Linked DNA regions of Homo sapiens. The protein of the gene in region 1 interacts with the protein of each later gene in a pairwise test. Each region holds a gene or a part of one and is shown in the gene's direction. Other genes may lie near its edges.

Region 1 (7,798 bases):
GGGTCTCTTAGGGTTTCTGGGGTGTCCTTAAATGAATTTTCTATGGGCCTTTGGTGAAACTGGGGGAGGCAGAGAGGTTTCTCTGATGTTTTCTGGAGAAACGTTTCTGGGAGTTTGGGCCTGTCTCTTTTTCTTTGAACTCTATTCATTCTAAAAATGGTGTCTAAACACCTGCTATGTTCTTAGGAGCTGGGCGTATGGGGTCAATGACGTCCTGTCTCTACCCTCTGAGTCGAATAGGGCAGGCAGGCCAGAGAATGGGGATCAGTGCAAAGGCTGATGAAGGCTGTGTTGTGAGAGTCAAAGGAGACTGTGAAGACAGACAGCTCCCTTGGGAAAGTGGGGGAACCGCCTATTGACCATGGAATTTAGCTGAGGGCAATAGAGAGCCAGGACAAGGCTCTGGGATAGGGTCTCACATGTTTATCCGCAAGCGGGGAGGACTGAGCGAGGGGACTGCTGGGAGGAAGAAGGAAGGGAGGAGTCCAATAAATGGGGTGTGTGTGTGTCCTTGTAACTGTGCAAAGTGTGCTGGTGTGTGTGTGTGATTGTCACTGTGTGAGGGATTACGTGCCTATGCAATGGCACGAGTCTGCGAATGTGAACGTGTGAACATGTGTCTGTAGGATTGTAAGTGTCTGTGAATATGTGAGAGGAGCAAGTCAGGTATGTCTCCAGGTGAGCGTGCAATCTGTGTGTGGGTGTAAGCGTGTGTGAGTGTGTGGCTGTGAGATAGTAAACACAGAGTCACAGTGTTTACTGTCTCTCTCTCTCTCTCTCTTTTTTTTTTCTTTTCTTGAGACAGAGTCTCGCTCTGTTGCCCAGGCTGGAGTGCAATGGCGGGATCTCGGCTCACTGCAATTTCCGCCTTCTGGGTTCAAGCGATTCTCCTGCCTCAGCTTCCCAAGTAGCTGGGATTACAGGCGCCTGCCACCACGCCCGGCTAATTTTTGTATTTTTAGTAGAGATGGGGTTTCACCAGGTTGGTCATGCTGGTCTCGAACTTCTGACCTCAGGTGATCCACCCGCCTCGGCCTCCCAAAATGCTAGGATTACAGGCATGAGCCACCGCGCCCGTCCAGTTTACTGTCTCACAGCCACACGCTTACACATGCACATGCTAATGTGTGTTGTGCACTCACATGAGCACGCGCCGATGTGTGTCCCTGTGTGTGTGCATCTGCGTGCGAGTGTGAATGAGTGTGTCGCTGTGTGCAAGTTTCAATGTGTGGTAGTGAGCGTGGGTGTCTGGAACGTGCATCTGTGTGAATGTGGAAGTGTGGAGTATGTTTGGGTGAGTCTGTGTGTCCGAGTGTGAGTACTGAGTGGAAGCACATGTGTCTATAGGTGAGTGCATGTCTGGTCTTGCACGCGTGATTGTGCATTAGTGTGTGAGAGTGTGATATTTGGGTCCATGGATGGGATAGTCAATACGTGTGGGTGTCTGTGTTGAGGAGTCATGTGTGAGTGTGTGTCTTCGTGTGTGTGAAGTGTAAATGTGTGCACTGCCAGTATGTGAGCCTGACCTGATAGTCACACCAACATTAATGGATTTGGCTGCAACAGTGACTGTGTCTGTGTGCACGAGAGCATAAGGACACAATATTCTATGTCAGAACATGTTGGGGGGTGGGACGGGTCTTTTTTCTCTGAGAAGATCCAAGGGTCTCCCTCAGAGCTTTCTCATGGAGAGTGTTCACTTGGGGGAAATTTCTAGAATCTCTCTGGAAAGGCTTCACTGGGTGGGGGCTTTTCCAGTTCTCGGTGTCCACTCTGAATGATAAGAGAGGGGACCGTGGGGAGGAGAGTGGAGACGGATCCTCCCTCCAATTCCCGGTGCCTGCCTGGAAGAGTCCCTCTTTATCCCCTTGATTCTGAGGGCCTTGAGGAATCTTAGAGTGCAGATATATTCCCCCAACCCCCACCCTGGCCCTGGCCAGTGGCTTCACCCACACCCTGAGGAGTTGGGGGACCGCTGGGGCCTTGTGGCCTCTGAGCACCTTGGCTGGGTTCCAGGGCGGACGGACGCCGGTGGTCTCTGGCCTCGCTCCCTTCATCTGGCTATGGCACCAACACGCCCAGTTCCACCGTCTCGGTGAGTGTGGAAAGTAGGTGGGTGGGCCGGTGGGTAAGGAATTCAGGGGCCCTCCAGCCTGAAGACCCACACCCAGGCCAGCAGTCCAGGCTGGGCTTGATGACAGTTTAGGGCCAGGCTCAGTGACTCAAGCCTGTAATCCCAGTACTTTGGGAGGCCAAGACAGAAGGATTGCTTGAGCCTAGGAGTTCAAGACCAGTCTGGGCAACATAGGGAGACCCTTGTCCCTACAAAAAATTAAAAATTATCTGGGCGTGGTGGTGCACACCTGTGGTCCCCACTATTTGGGAGGCTGAGACGGGAGGATCGCTGGAGTCTGGGAGGTATAGGCTACAGTTGAGCTGAGATCGCACTGCAGCATTCCAGTCTGGATGACAGAGTGAGACCCTGTCTCAAAAGAAAAAAGCAAAAAAAGACAGTTTGGGTTTCCCCATTCTTCAAAGGTGTTCACTTGTCCATCTATTAAAGAGTTATGGGTCCGCCCCACTCAGAGCCCAATGCTCTGCCCTCAACACATTTCTGGGAGGGTCCTTCCTACTCATTTCTGACTCACTCATTTACAGCTGGTGACATAAGGCTCTGTGAGTTAAGCCATTTACTCTGATATCAGCAGCTGGGCTGGGCCAGGCCACAGCTTTCACCCAGAGCCCACTTGCTCACCCCTTGGAACACCCAAAGTCCCTTCATCTGCTCCCTTTTCTATCCATGCCCATAGTTCCCTTATCCAGCCATTGGCATGATGTTCAGCAGACATTTGTCATGAGATTGTCATGTGGTAGGCGGGTTCTGCAAGCTGGGCCAGAGTGTAAATATTCACGCAGCCCTCATGGGGGAAGACAAGCCAGTAAGAAGGCATTCACAAAATAGAATGGTCAGAACTTTGATGCAAGTAGCACAAGGTGAGGTGATAGGGGAGAGGCATGTGACTCAGATTGGGGGGTTGTCAAGGAAGGCTTCCTGGAGGAGGTGACATTGAAACCAAGACAACAGACCAGCAGGAGTTTGGCAGATGGAAGAGAAGGGAGAAGAGTGTTCCAGGAAGGGGAAGAGCATGTGCAAACCTCTAGAGGCCACAGAACTTGCAGCATTTGAAAAGTTGAAAGTAGCTTTGTGGGGCTGAAAATTTGGGATGCGGGGGAGGAATAGAGATGATGCAGGCAGTGACCTTGATCAGGCTGGAACCTTGTCAGCCAGGGCAGCAAGGGAGATTTTATTCTAAATCCAGTGGGGAAGCCATGGAATGGTTTTATTTCTTTATATTAAATTGTACTAAAATTTCAGTTTGAACCATTTGAAATTGTGATTATGTAGGCTATAGATAATGCACACTAATTAAAAAAATAAAAGAGATGGATGGGGTGGGGAATTTTAACCAGAGGAGTGAGCAATGTGATGTTTAAAAATATCATTCTGGCCGGGCGCGGTGGCTCATGCCTATAATCCTAGCATTTTGGGAGGCTGAAGCGGGTGGATCATTTGAGGTCAGGAGTTCGAGACCAGCCTGGCCAACATGGTGAAACCCTGTCTCTAGTAAAAATACAAAAATGAGCCAGGCGTGGTCATGGATGCCTGTAATCCCAGCTACTCAGGAGGCTGAGGCAGGGAGAATTGCTTGAACCTGAGAACTGGAGGTTGCAGTGAGCCAAGACTGCACCACTGCACTCCAGCCTGGGTGAAAGCTATATGACCAGGCATGGTGGCTCACACCTGTATTCCCAACACTACGGGAGGTTGAGGTGGGAGGATTGCTTGAGCCCAGGAGTTTGAGACCAACCTGAGCAACGTGATGAAACCCTGTTTCTACAAAAAAAAAAAAAAAAAAAAAAATTAGCCAGGTGTGATGGCTTGTGCCTGAAGTCCCAGCTACTCAGGAGGCTGAGATGGAAAGATTGCTCGAGCCCAGGAGGTGGGGGTTGCAGTGAGTGGAGGTCGAGCCACTGCACTCCAGCCTGGGGGAGAGAGAAACACCCTGTCTCGAAATAAAAAAAAATAAAATAAAGCAAGAGGAGAGCCAGGCATAGTGGCTCATGCCTGTGACCCAGCAATTTTTTTTTTTTTTTTTTTTTGAGATGGAGTCTCACTCTGTCGCCCAGGCCTGGAGTGCAATGGCACCGTGCCGGCTCACTGCAACCTCCATCTCCTGGGTTCAAGCAATTCTCCTGCCTCAGCCTCCCGAGTAGCTGGGATTACAGGTGCCCACCACCATGCCTGGCTAATTTTTTTATATTTTTAGTAGAGACGGGGTTTCACCCTGTTGGCCAGGCTGGTCTAGAACTCCTGACCTCAGTTTTTCTGCCCGCCTCAGCCTCCCAAAGTGCTGGGATTACAGGCGTGAGCCACCGAGCCCTGCCCTCAGTCCCAGAACTTTGAGAGGCCAAAGTGGGAGTATTGCTTGAAGCCAGGAGTTGGAAGCCAGCCTGGGCAACATAGAGAGACCCTGTCTCTGCAAAAAAGAATTAGCCAAGCATGGTGTAGTCCCAGCTACACAGAAGGCAGAGGGGGGAAGATTACTTTAGCCCAGGAGTTCAAGGCTTCCGTGAGCCATGATTGTACTACATCCCTCTAGCCTGGGTGACACAAGGAGACCGTGTCTCTCTCTCTTTTTAACTTTAAATAATTTTAATAAATAGAGACACAGTTTCACTATGTTGCCCAGGCTGGTCTCAAACTCCTGGGCTCAAATGATCCTCCCGCCTTCGCCTCCCAAAGTGCTGAGATTACAGGTGTGAGTCACCATATTCAGTGGAGACCCTTCTCTAAAATAATAATGATAATAAAGCAAGAGGAAACAAGATAGAGTAGGGATAGGGAATAATGGGTGTGTATTCAGAGGAGGTCTTCCCGAGGGGTGACATTGAAGCAAAAATTTGAAGGATGAGAAGGAGGGATCCATAGTAGATGTGTTCCAAGCAGAAAGAATAGCTAATGCAAAGGCCCTGAGGAAGGAGCTTGCCTGGCTTGTCCAAGGACCATCAAGGAGGCCACTAGGCTGGGTGCGGTGGCTTGTGCCTGTAATCTCAGCACTTTGGGAGGCAGAGGCAGGTGGATCACCTGATGTCAGGAGTTCAAGACCAGCCTGGCCAACATGGTAAAACACTGTCTCTACTAAAAATACAAAAAATTAGCCAGGCGTGGTGACAGGCACCTGTAATCCCAGCTACTTAGGAGGCTGAGTCAGGAGAATCGCTTGAACGCGGGAGGCGGAGGTTGCAGTGAGCTGAGATCACACTCCAAACTAGGCAACAAGAACGAAACTCCATCTCAAAAAAAAAAAAAAAAAAAAAAAAGAAGGCCACTGTAGCTGGAGCAGAGGAAGTAAGCAGGAGAGTGAGAAAAATCCACGGCAGGGACCCAGGGCAGGATGAGGCAGGACCTTGTATAACTGGGGAAGGACTTGGGTGTTCACCCTGAGTAAGGTGGGAGCCACCAAGGGTTCTGAACAGAGGAGGCTCATGACTTGACCCAAGCTTTAACAGACTCACTGTCTCCACCCCTGTCTGTCCCTGTCCACCTGTCTGTGGCCAAGAGTCCCAGCCAAGATCCTAGGATCCAAGGATCGTAAATCAGGTCCTGATCCTGGCCTTGCCCAGTGACCCCATCGGCTTTGGGAGTCCCAGCTCAGGGTCCTGAGCTGTTGGGGGGCCCATGGTGGCTCTGACCCCGGCCCTGCCCCTGTCCCCAGTCCTCCTGCTCCTCCCAGGAGCGCCTTCACCAGCTGCCCTACCAGCCCACGGTGGACGAGCTCCACTTCCTCTCCAAACACTTCGGGAGCACCGAGAGCATCACAGACGAGGATGGTGGCCGTCGCTCCCCAGCCGTGCGGCCCCGCTCACGGAGCCTCAGGTGGGCAGGCATCCCTCCTCCTTCGTACCAAGCTAGTGGTCTTAGGACTTGTGCTTAGAGAGACCCCTGTCCCCGCGAATAAAAGGGTTACATCTTGGGGCGGGGGCTCTCTGCGGGCTTGGAGGCAGAGGACTCGACAAAATGGGCTTCTCTCCCCGCAGCCCCGGGCGCTCCCCCTCCTCCTACGACAACGAGATCGTGATGATGAATCACGTCTACAAGGAGAGGTTCCCGAAGGTGAGGTGGGACCCGAGGCGGTCACGGGGTGACCAGGCGGCCTGCACTCTCGCTCGCCTTATCCCCGCGCGCCCCCTGGCGGCCTCGGTGCGCAGCGCAGGCTCCTGGCGGCCGCAGCCTTCGGGCACAGCCCCGCGCCCCTCCTCCGTCCCTCCCGCAGGCCACTGCGCAGATGGAGGAGAAGCTGCGCGACTTTACCCGCGCCTACGAACCCGACAGCGTTCTGCCTCTGGCCGATGGCGTGCTCAGCTTCATCCACCACCAGATCATCGAGCTGGCCCGGGACTGCCTGACCAAGTCCCGTGACGGCCTCATCACCACGGTCTACTTCTATGAATTGCAGGAGAACCTGGAGAAGCTCCTTCAAGACGTGAGTGCACGCGGAGGCCGGGCTGATCTCAGGCTCAGCACCGCCAGATTGTGCCCAATGCACCCCTTTCTTCACCCCACATACATTCAGGGAGCTCCTACCACGTTCCAGGCACTGGCGTGGAGCTGAGGACTCAGGGGTGGAAGTGGTCCCTTCCCTAGGTCTGACCGACTGAAGAGGCAGGAATTTCACCTCGCTCATTTCCCTTAGGTCTTTACTCAAATGTCACCTTTTCAGGTGGCTTCTTAGGCGGTCCCCAGTCATTTAAAATATTAAACTCGGCCGGGCTCGGTGGCTCAGGCCTGTAATCCCAGCACTTTGGGAGGCCGAGGGGGGCGGATCACGAGGTCAAGAGATCGAGACCATCCTGGCTAACACGGTGACACCCCGTCTCTACTAAAAACACACACACACACAAAATTAGCCGGGCGTGGTGGCGGACGCCTGTAGTCCCAGCTACTCGGGAGGCTGAGGCAGGAGAATGGCGTAAACCCGGGAGGCGGAGCTTGCAGTGAGCCGAGATTGCGCCGCTGTACTCCAGCCTGGGCGACAGAGCGAGACTCCGTCTCAAAAAATAATAATAGTAAATAAAATAAAATAAAATAAAATATTAAACTTAGCCGGGTGCGGTGGCTCAGGCCTGTAATCCCAGCACTCTGGGAGGCTGAGGCAAGTGGATCACCTGAGGTCAGGAGTTCGAGACCAGCCTGGCCAACATGGCGAAACCCCGTCTCTACTAAAAATACAAAAATTAGCTGGGCGTGGTGGTGGGCGCCTGTAATCCCAACTACTTGGGAGGCAGAGGCGGGAGAATCGCTTGAACCTGGGAGTCGGAGGTTGCGGTGAGCCGAGATCACACCATTGCACTCCAGTCTGAGCAACAAGAGTGAAACTCTGTCTCAAAAATAAATAAATAAATGAAATAAAATAAAATATTAAACTCTACTCACATTTATCACCCACTTTCTCCTCAGTTTCTCCTTGACACTCAGCACCATCCATCATACTGTGTATTTTTGCTTATTTTATTTCATGTCTATCCTTCTCCAATGTCAGCCCCATAGTTGGTGAGGGTGGGGGGGTGGAGTTGTCTGTTCTGTCCACTGCTGTGTCCCTGCTGTTTGGAACAATACCCAGCACACAGTAGGTACTCAATAAATGTTGGGTAAATTGATGCTTGAATGTCCCTTTGCAGTGGCATGCACCTGTAGTCCCAGCTAGCTACTTAGGAGGCTGAGATGGGAGGATTGCTT
Region 2 (6,221 bases), 1.4 Mb from region 1:
CCAGCTCACCCCCAGGGCTGCAGGCTTAGCCTTGTTTGCCTGGGTCTTGGAGTAGCATGGCCATTGAGAGATGTGACATCAAAGCCAGACGTGGTGGTTCTCGCCTGTGCTCCCAGTGTTTCGGGAGGCTGAGGGGCAAGGAGCACTTGAGGCCAGGAGTTCAAGATCAGCCTGGGCAACATAGTGAGATCCTTCTCTACAATTTTTTTTTAAGGATTAGCCTGATACGGTGGTGCATGCCTGTAGTTCAGGCTACTCAGGAGGCTGAGGCGGGAGGATCGCTTGAGCCTAGGAGTTGGAGGCTGCAGTGAACTATGATGGTGCCACTGCACTCCAGCCTGGGTGACAGAGCGAGACCTTATCTCCAAAAATTAAAAAATGTGGCTGGGCGCGGTGTCTCATGCCTGTAATCCCAGCTACTCAGGAGGCTGAAGCAGGAGAATCGCTTGAACATGGAAGGAGGAGGTTGCAGTGAGCTGAAATCGTGCCACTGCACTCCAGCCTGGGCAACAAGAGCGAAACTCCATCTCAAAAAAAAAAAAATAATTAAAAAATGTAAAAGAAGATCTCAGTCTGAGTCTAGTGGGGGAGGAGACAGAGAAATGAATGGTGATGAAAGCTGTGAAGTAGAAGGGGTAACAGAGGCCGGGCGCGGTGGCTCACGCCTGTAATCCCAGCACTTTGGGAAGCCGAGGCAGGCGGATCACGAGGTCAGGAGTCCAAGACCAGCCTGGCCAAGATGGTGAAACCCCATCTCTACTAAAAATACAAAAATTTAGCTGGGCACGGTGGCAGGCGCCTGTAATCCCAGCTACTCGGGAGGCTGAGGCAGAGAACTGCTTGAACCCAGGAGGCGGAGGTTGCAGTGAGCTGAGATCGTGCCACTGCACTCCAGCCTGGGCGACAGAGTGAGATTCCGTCTCAAAAAGAAAAAAAAAAAAGAAGGGGTGACGGAGACCCAGCAGCAGAGACCCCCCAGTCCCATCTGAGGCAACATCCACACAAAGGCAGAGTGGAAAGGGAGTTCCTAGCAGTGGGAAAAGCCTGTGCAAAGAGGGCCAGAAGGAGCGAGTAGTTTGTTCCTCGTGGTCAGGATTGAATGGTTCAGGCCCTTGGGTCCTCCCTTCCCAGCTGAGGGGTTTAATCCAAGGGCGGGATTGCCAGTGAGGAATGTGAGTGGAGCCAATTCTGTCCTTTCATTAATTCATTCAACAGACACCTCCCAAGTGCTTACTAGGTGTTGTTCAGGGGCTGGAACAAACTCTTGCAGGGAAGATGAAGTTGATGATAATAAATATATGATTTGAAAAGGAAAGCCGGGTGCAGTGGCTCACACCTGTAATTTCAGCACTTTGGAACTCCAAGGTGGTAGGATTGCTTGAGCCCAGGAGTTCGAGACCAGCCTGGCTAACGCAGCGAGACCCCACCTCTACAAAAATTTTTAAAAATTAGCGGGGCATGGCTGGGTGCGGTGGCTCATGCCTGTAATCCCAGCACTTTGGGAGGTCGAAGCGGGCGGATCACCTGAGGTCGGGAGTTCGAGACCAGCCTGATCAACATGGAGAAACCCCATCTCTATTAAAAATACAAAATTAGCTGGGCGTGGTGGCAGGTGCTACTCGGGAGGCTGAGGCAGGACAATCGCTTGAACCTAGGAGGCAGAGGTTGCAGTGAGCTGAGATCATCCCACTGCACTCCAGCCTGGGCAACAGAGCAAGACCCCGTCTCAGAAAAAAAAAAAAAAAAATTAGTGGGGCATAGTGGTGCACCTGTAGTCCCAGCTACTTGGGAAGCCAAGGCAGGAGGATTGCTTGAGCCTGAGAGTTCGAGACCAGCCTAAGCAACATAGTGAGACTGTGTCACCACAAATCATAAAAAAAATTAGCTGGGTGTGAGGGCGCCTGCCTACAGTCCCAGCTGCTCAGGAGGCTGAGGCGGGAGGTTTGCTTGAGCCCAGGAGGTCAAAGCTGCAGTGAGCCATGATTGCACCACTGCACTCCAGCCTGGGTGACAGAGCGAGACCGTGTCTCTAAAAAAAAAAATTGCATTGCAGGGGTCACACCATTCCAAGGTCATGGCACAGTCAGGGGTCATAAAGGTGTGAAGGGTCACAACGGGGTCAGAAGCATGCGGGGGGTCAGGGCAGAGCCCGCGTGACCCCCAAAGTAGTCCCCTGTCGCTCATCGCCAGGTTCTCGCCGATCGCCATCGATGGTATGAGCGGCCTGGCGGGCGTGGGCCTGTCGGGGGGCGCGGCGGGCGCCGGCTGGTGCATCTTCGTGTACAACCTGTCACCGGAGGCAGACGAGAGCGTGCTGTGGCAGCTGTTCGGGCCTTTTGGGGCAGTCACCAACGTCAAGGTCATCCGTGATTTCACCACCAACAAGTGCAAGGGTTTCGGCTTCGTGACCATGACCAACTATGACGAGGCGGCCATGGCCATCGCCAGCCTGAACGGCTATCGCCTGGGCGAGCGCGTGCTGCAGGTCTCCTTCAAGACCAGCAAACAGCACAAGGCGTGAGCCCACCCCGCCTGCCCTCCCACCCCCTCCCCGGGCAGCAGAGAGAGAGAGAGAGAAAGAGAGAGAGAGAGAGAGAAGGGGCCCAAGAGAGACAGCACAGGCAGCCCCACGGACGACGCGAGGGCCCCACGTCCCTGCGGAAGCCACAGGGTGAGCACTCTGGGGTGGGAGGGTCTGCAGGGAATTGGGGGGGTGCCCGGGGATCCCCCGCCCCATCCTCCTGCCCCCACCCCAGGCTGGGCTGTTCACTCTCTCGTCTTGGTTTGGTTCATGGTGAAGGTTTTTGTTTCTTTTTTCGGCTAAAAAGAATGCAGAGATGTGCCCCCACCCCCACCCTCGACCACCCCCGATGGGATGGCTTGGGGGGCTCCAGGGGGTGCCCTCCCAGACCCCCTTGCCCAGGCCTCCCCAGCACCTAGGTGGGGCCTGGGGTAGGAGGAACAGGTTTAAAAATCCCCAAAAAAGCGAACCGTGAGGAGGGGTGTGGGCACCCCCGGCCCAGTGCCCCCTGGTGGAATGCGGGGGAGCAGGCAGTGGGGCTGGAAGCAGAAACAAAATGAAAAAAAAAGGGGGGTGGGAGGGGAAGAAAAACTCTATTTTTGTAAAAAGGGAAAAAGACCTCGTGGAGAATTTTTACTGGGGATTCTTGAACTTGAAAAAAAAAAACACAAAAAAAGACAAAAAAAAAAAAAGAAAATATTTTGGCAGGTTATGTTTACCAACTGGGGCGGGGGTGGGGGGGGCCCAGGGAGCAGGGCTTAGGGGCTAGCAGCCCACGGGGCCACACAGAGAAACAACCACGCAGACAGTCACACCACGGGGACACACGGACAGACGCAGACGGACACAGCGACATGCCCCAGACACGTTAAGGGACTGGTTGGCCAAACTCAGACACGTGGACAGGGATAGACAGAAAGAGACAGAAGCTGGGGCTACGTCCATGTGGACACAGACCACAGATGTGGGCACACGAATCCATCCACCTGTCCACGTGCACACGTGAATGTAGCGATAGATATTTGGACATCAAATTTGGACACCAGGTCACGGAGAAACACAAACACCACCCAGGAACACGCAGACATATGCCCATAGCATCCCACAGGCCCAGGCAGGAGGTCCCACCCCAGACCCTGCCCCAGACGCTCCCTCACCCTCTCGGCCCCCTCGCCCTGGCCCCCAGGTTCTCTGCAGAGATCTCTCCTGGACCCCCAGCGGTCTCCTTGGCGCCCACGAACACAGGCGTGCACACGCAGCGCACATGCATTGAGACACACGATACCTCGTTCCACCTTGGCGTCACGGTGGGCTGGAGGCAGCCCCCCCCCCCACAACACTTGAGGCCAAAGGACACCCCTGTCCCCGGGGCTCAGCCTCCCCCTGGGCCGAGGCCTTGGCCCACACAGCTGAGGGAGAGGCCCAGCCCTGAGCCTCCCCCACCAGGACTGGGCCTCCCCGGCAGCAAGACCCCGGCACTCCCCGCCAGGCCCAGGGTGGGGTGGATGGGCCCAAAGGCCCAGCCCCACACTCCTTTCCCGTCCACTTGTCACCTACCTATCCCCTTTCGGTTTGTTGGGTTTTTCGTCTTTCCAGATTGCAGTGGACACAGCCCCCGATCTCGAGCCCCGGCCCCCGGCTTCTGTCTGGACATTGCATCGCCCTAGTTTTCTTTCTTTAAAAAAAAAAAATTCCAACAGAAGCCACAGGCCGGAGCCCCTGGGAGCCCTCGCACCGCTCCCCACCCCACTCAGCGGCCCCATCGGAACTGAGAATTGCAAAACCCCCGACTTTAGCTATAGTTAAGTTGCCTTCCCCCGGTGTCCCCACGTTTGGTGTCTGGCTATGGCGCCCCCATCTGACTGTCCAGCTCTCTCTCCCCCACCCCTCCCGGTGTTGTTATTAAACGTCTGTGGAGCTTCTGCTGCAAGGAACAAAAAAGAAAAAAATCAAAAAAGCGACAAAAAAACACAAACAGAAGAGGAAAAAAAAGCAACAAAAAAAGAAAACACACAGAAGAGATTTAAAAAAAAAAAAGGAAAAAAAAAAAAGACATAAACTGGCACCAGTTAACTTTCTTGTACTTTTTTGCTGAATTTAGCTTCTTGTAGTTTTAACTTATTGCTATGTTAACTATTTATTCTCCTCGTTGCCCTGTAAGGACATCCGTGTATATTTCTGTTACTTCATCCGGTTTGCAAGTTAAAGGAACGACAATGTTCTCTTTGTTTCTTTAAGTTTTGCCGAGACATGGTTATGCCTAATTTATTTATAAAAGGGGAAGTGGAATCATTAAAGTAATAATAATTATTAATAACAGTAATGGTAGCCGAGTGGCACGCGGGGGCGTGTGCTCTGCGGGACAGTCCCCACGGCCAGCGACGTCCAGGTCACCAATGGGATTCTTTTTGCTCTTGTCTTGAGAATTTTTTCAGTCCTATTTAGCTGGTGAAATCCCTAGCTTGTTCTTGATACACGAACCTATTTATTCTCGTGGTTTTAAGTCCTCCCTGCCCTCTCTCCTCTCCCCTGCAGCAGGGCAGGGACCCCTCTCCCCTGCTGTCTCTTGGGGCTCTCTCCCCTCCGCCCTCTGCATTCGGGAACACGCACGTCCGCGTGGGAAGCTTGCAGCAGGGCGTCCGAGCAATAAGGGCTGGGTTTGTCCCCCACCCTGGGGGGGGCCAGGCTCCAGAGAGGGGGCACCTCCCCACACACCCCCCCCCCACCGAGGCCTAGGCCCCTGCCACCCCCAAGACTGGGAGGGGACTTCTTTTTCTAAAACACAAAACTCAGCCCAGCCAGGCCCCCTCCCTGGAGGCCAGCCCCTCCCCGCAGGGGGCCAGGCCGGGGCTCCCAGGCGAGGGGGACTTGGGGCTTCCACGTCCCTGGGGGGCAGGGGCCAGGCCAGGGGGGAGGGGGCTCAGCCCCTCCACCCCTCCCTTCATCCTGTTATTTATTCGGAAGGTTTCAAATCACGACAGAGTCCATGTTGGAGGTGATAAAAAACTGTAAAAAAAAAAAAAAAAAAAAAGACAAAACAAAAGACAAAAAAAAAAAAAAAACCCAACAAGAACACTTCGCGTTGCGTTTAGACTATTTATTACCGGGATCACAGGCCTGGCCGCGGTAACAGACTTTTACATGGAATTGTTTAATTATTTGTACTTTTCATGCCAGAAAATAAAAGTTCAGAATCTTAAGGCCTTGGGTGATCTCTGCACCGCTGCGCGGGGAGCACGCAGGAGCAGCCTGTGTAGTAGCGCCCAGGCCCCCGTCCTTCTCTGGGCCTGGGTCTGTCTGCAGCAGGGGCTTTGGCCCCGGGAGGGAACCCTTGGCCTCCACAGAGCACAGATGAGACCCAGGGAAGGTGGGACACGGGCCCGGATGGATGCTCAAGACAGAAATGGTCCAGGGTCCATCCACCTGGTATCTTCAGGAGTGATCCCCAGATGGTGGGGGAGGCCCGGGTGGGATCTGCAGAAAGCTGCGTCCCCTGCGCTCAACCCCTGCCCACACCCCGGTCCACACCCCAGCAAAGCGAGGCAGACACAGACAAGTTTGGGTGGGGGATCACATTTATTGTATTGAGGTCACAGGTCAAGTCATTCACTAGTCCCCACTAGGAGGGGTGGCAGGGACAGGGCTGGGGGTGGTGGGGCGAGTCACCAAGGTGGGGGGCCCAGGGAGGGCAAGCTCCTTT

Evidence for each region. The genes of interacting proteins can lie anywhere in the genome.
Region 2: the proteins of MAST1 (region 1) and ELAVL3 interact in a two-hybrid assay, tested with the Homo sapiens proteins (one study listed by BioGRID and IntAct).

Annotation. Positions count from the first base shown.
Region 1 is NC_000019.10:12,841,513-12,849,310, forward strand, and holds part of MAST1 (microtubule-associated serine/threonine-protein kinase 1), read left to right. Parts: intron 1-2,016; coding exon 2,017-2,095; intron 2,096-5,777; coding exon 5,778-5,938; intron 5,939-6,099; coding exon 6,100-6,175; intron 6,176-6,335; coding exon 6,336-6,545; intron 6,546-7,798. UniProt on the Homo sapiens protein: Microtubule-associated protein essential for correct brain development. Appears to link the dystrophin/utrophin network with microtubule filaments via the syntrophins. Phosphorylation of DMD or UTRN may modulate their affinities for associated proteins.
Region 2 is NC_000019.10:11,450,826-11,457,046, reverse strand, and holds the end of ELAVL3 (ELAV-like protein 3), read left to right. Parts: intron 1-2,169; coding exon 2,170-2,521; 3' UTR 2,522-5,721; downstream 5,722-6,221. UniProt on the Homo sapiens protein: RNA-binding protein that binds to AU-rich element (ARE) sequences of target mRNAs, including VEGF mRNA. May also bind poly-A tracts via RRM 3. May be involved in neuronal differentiation and maintenance.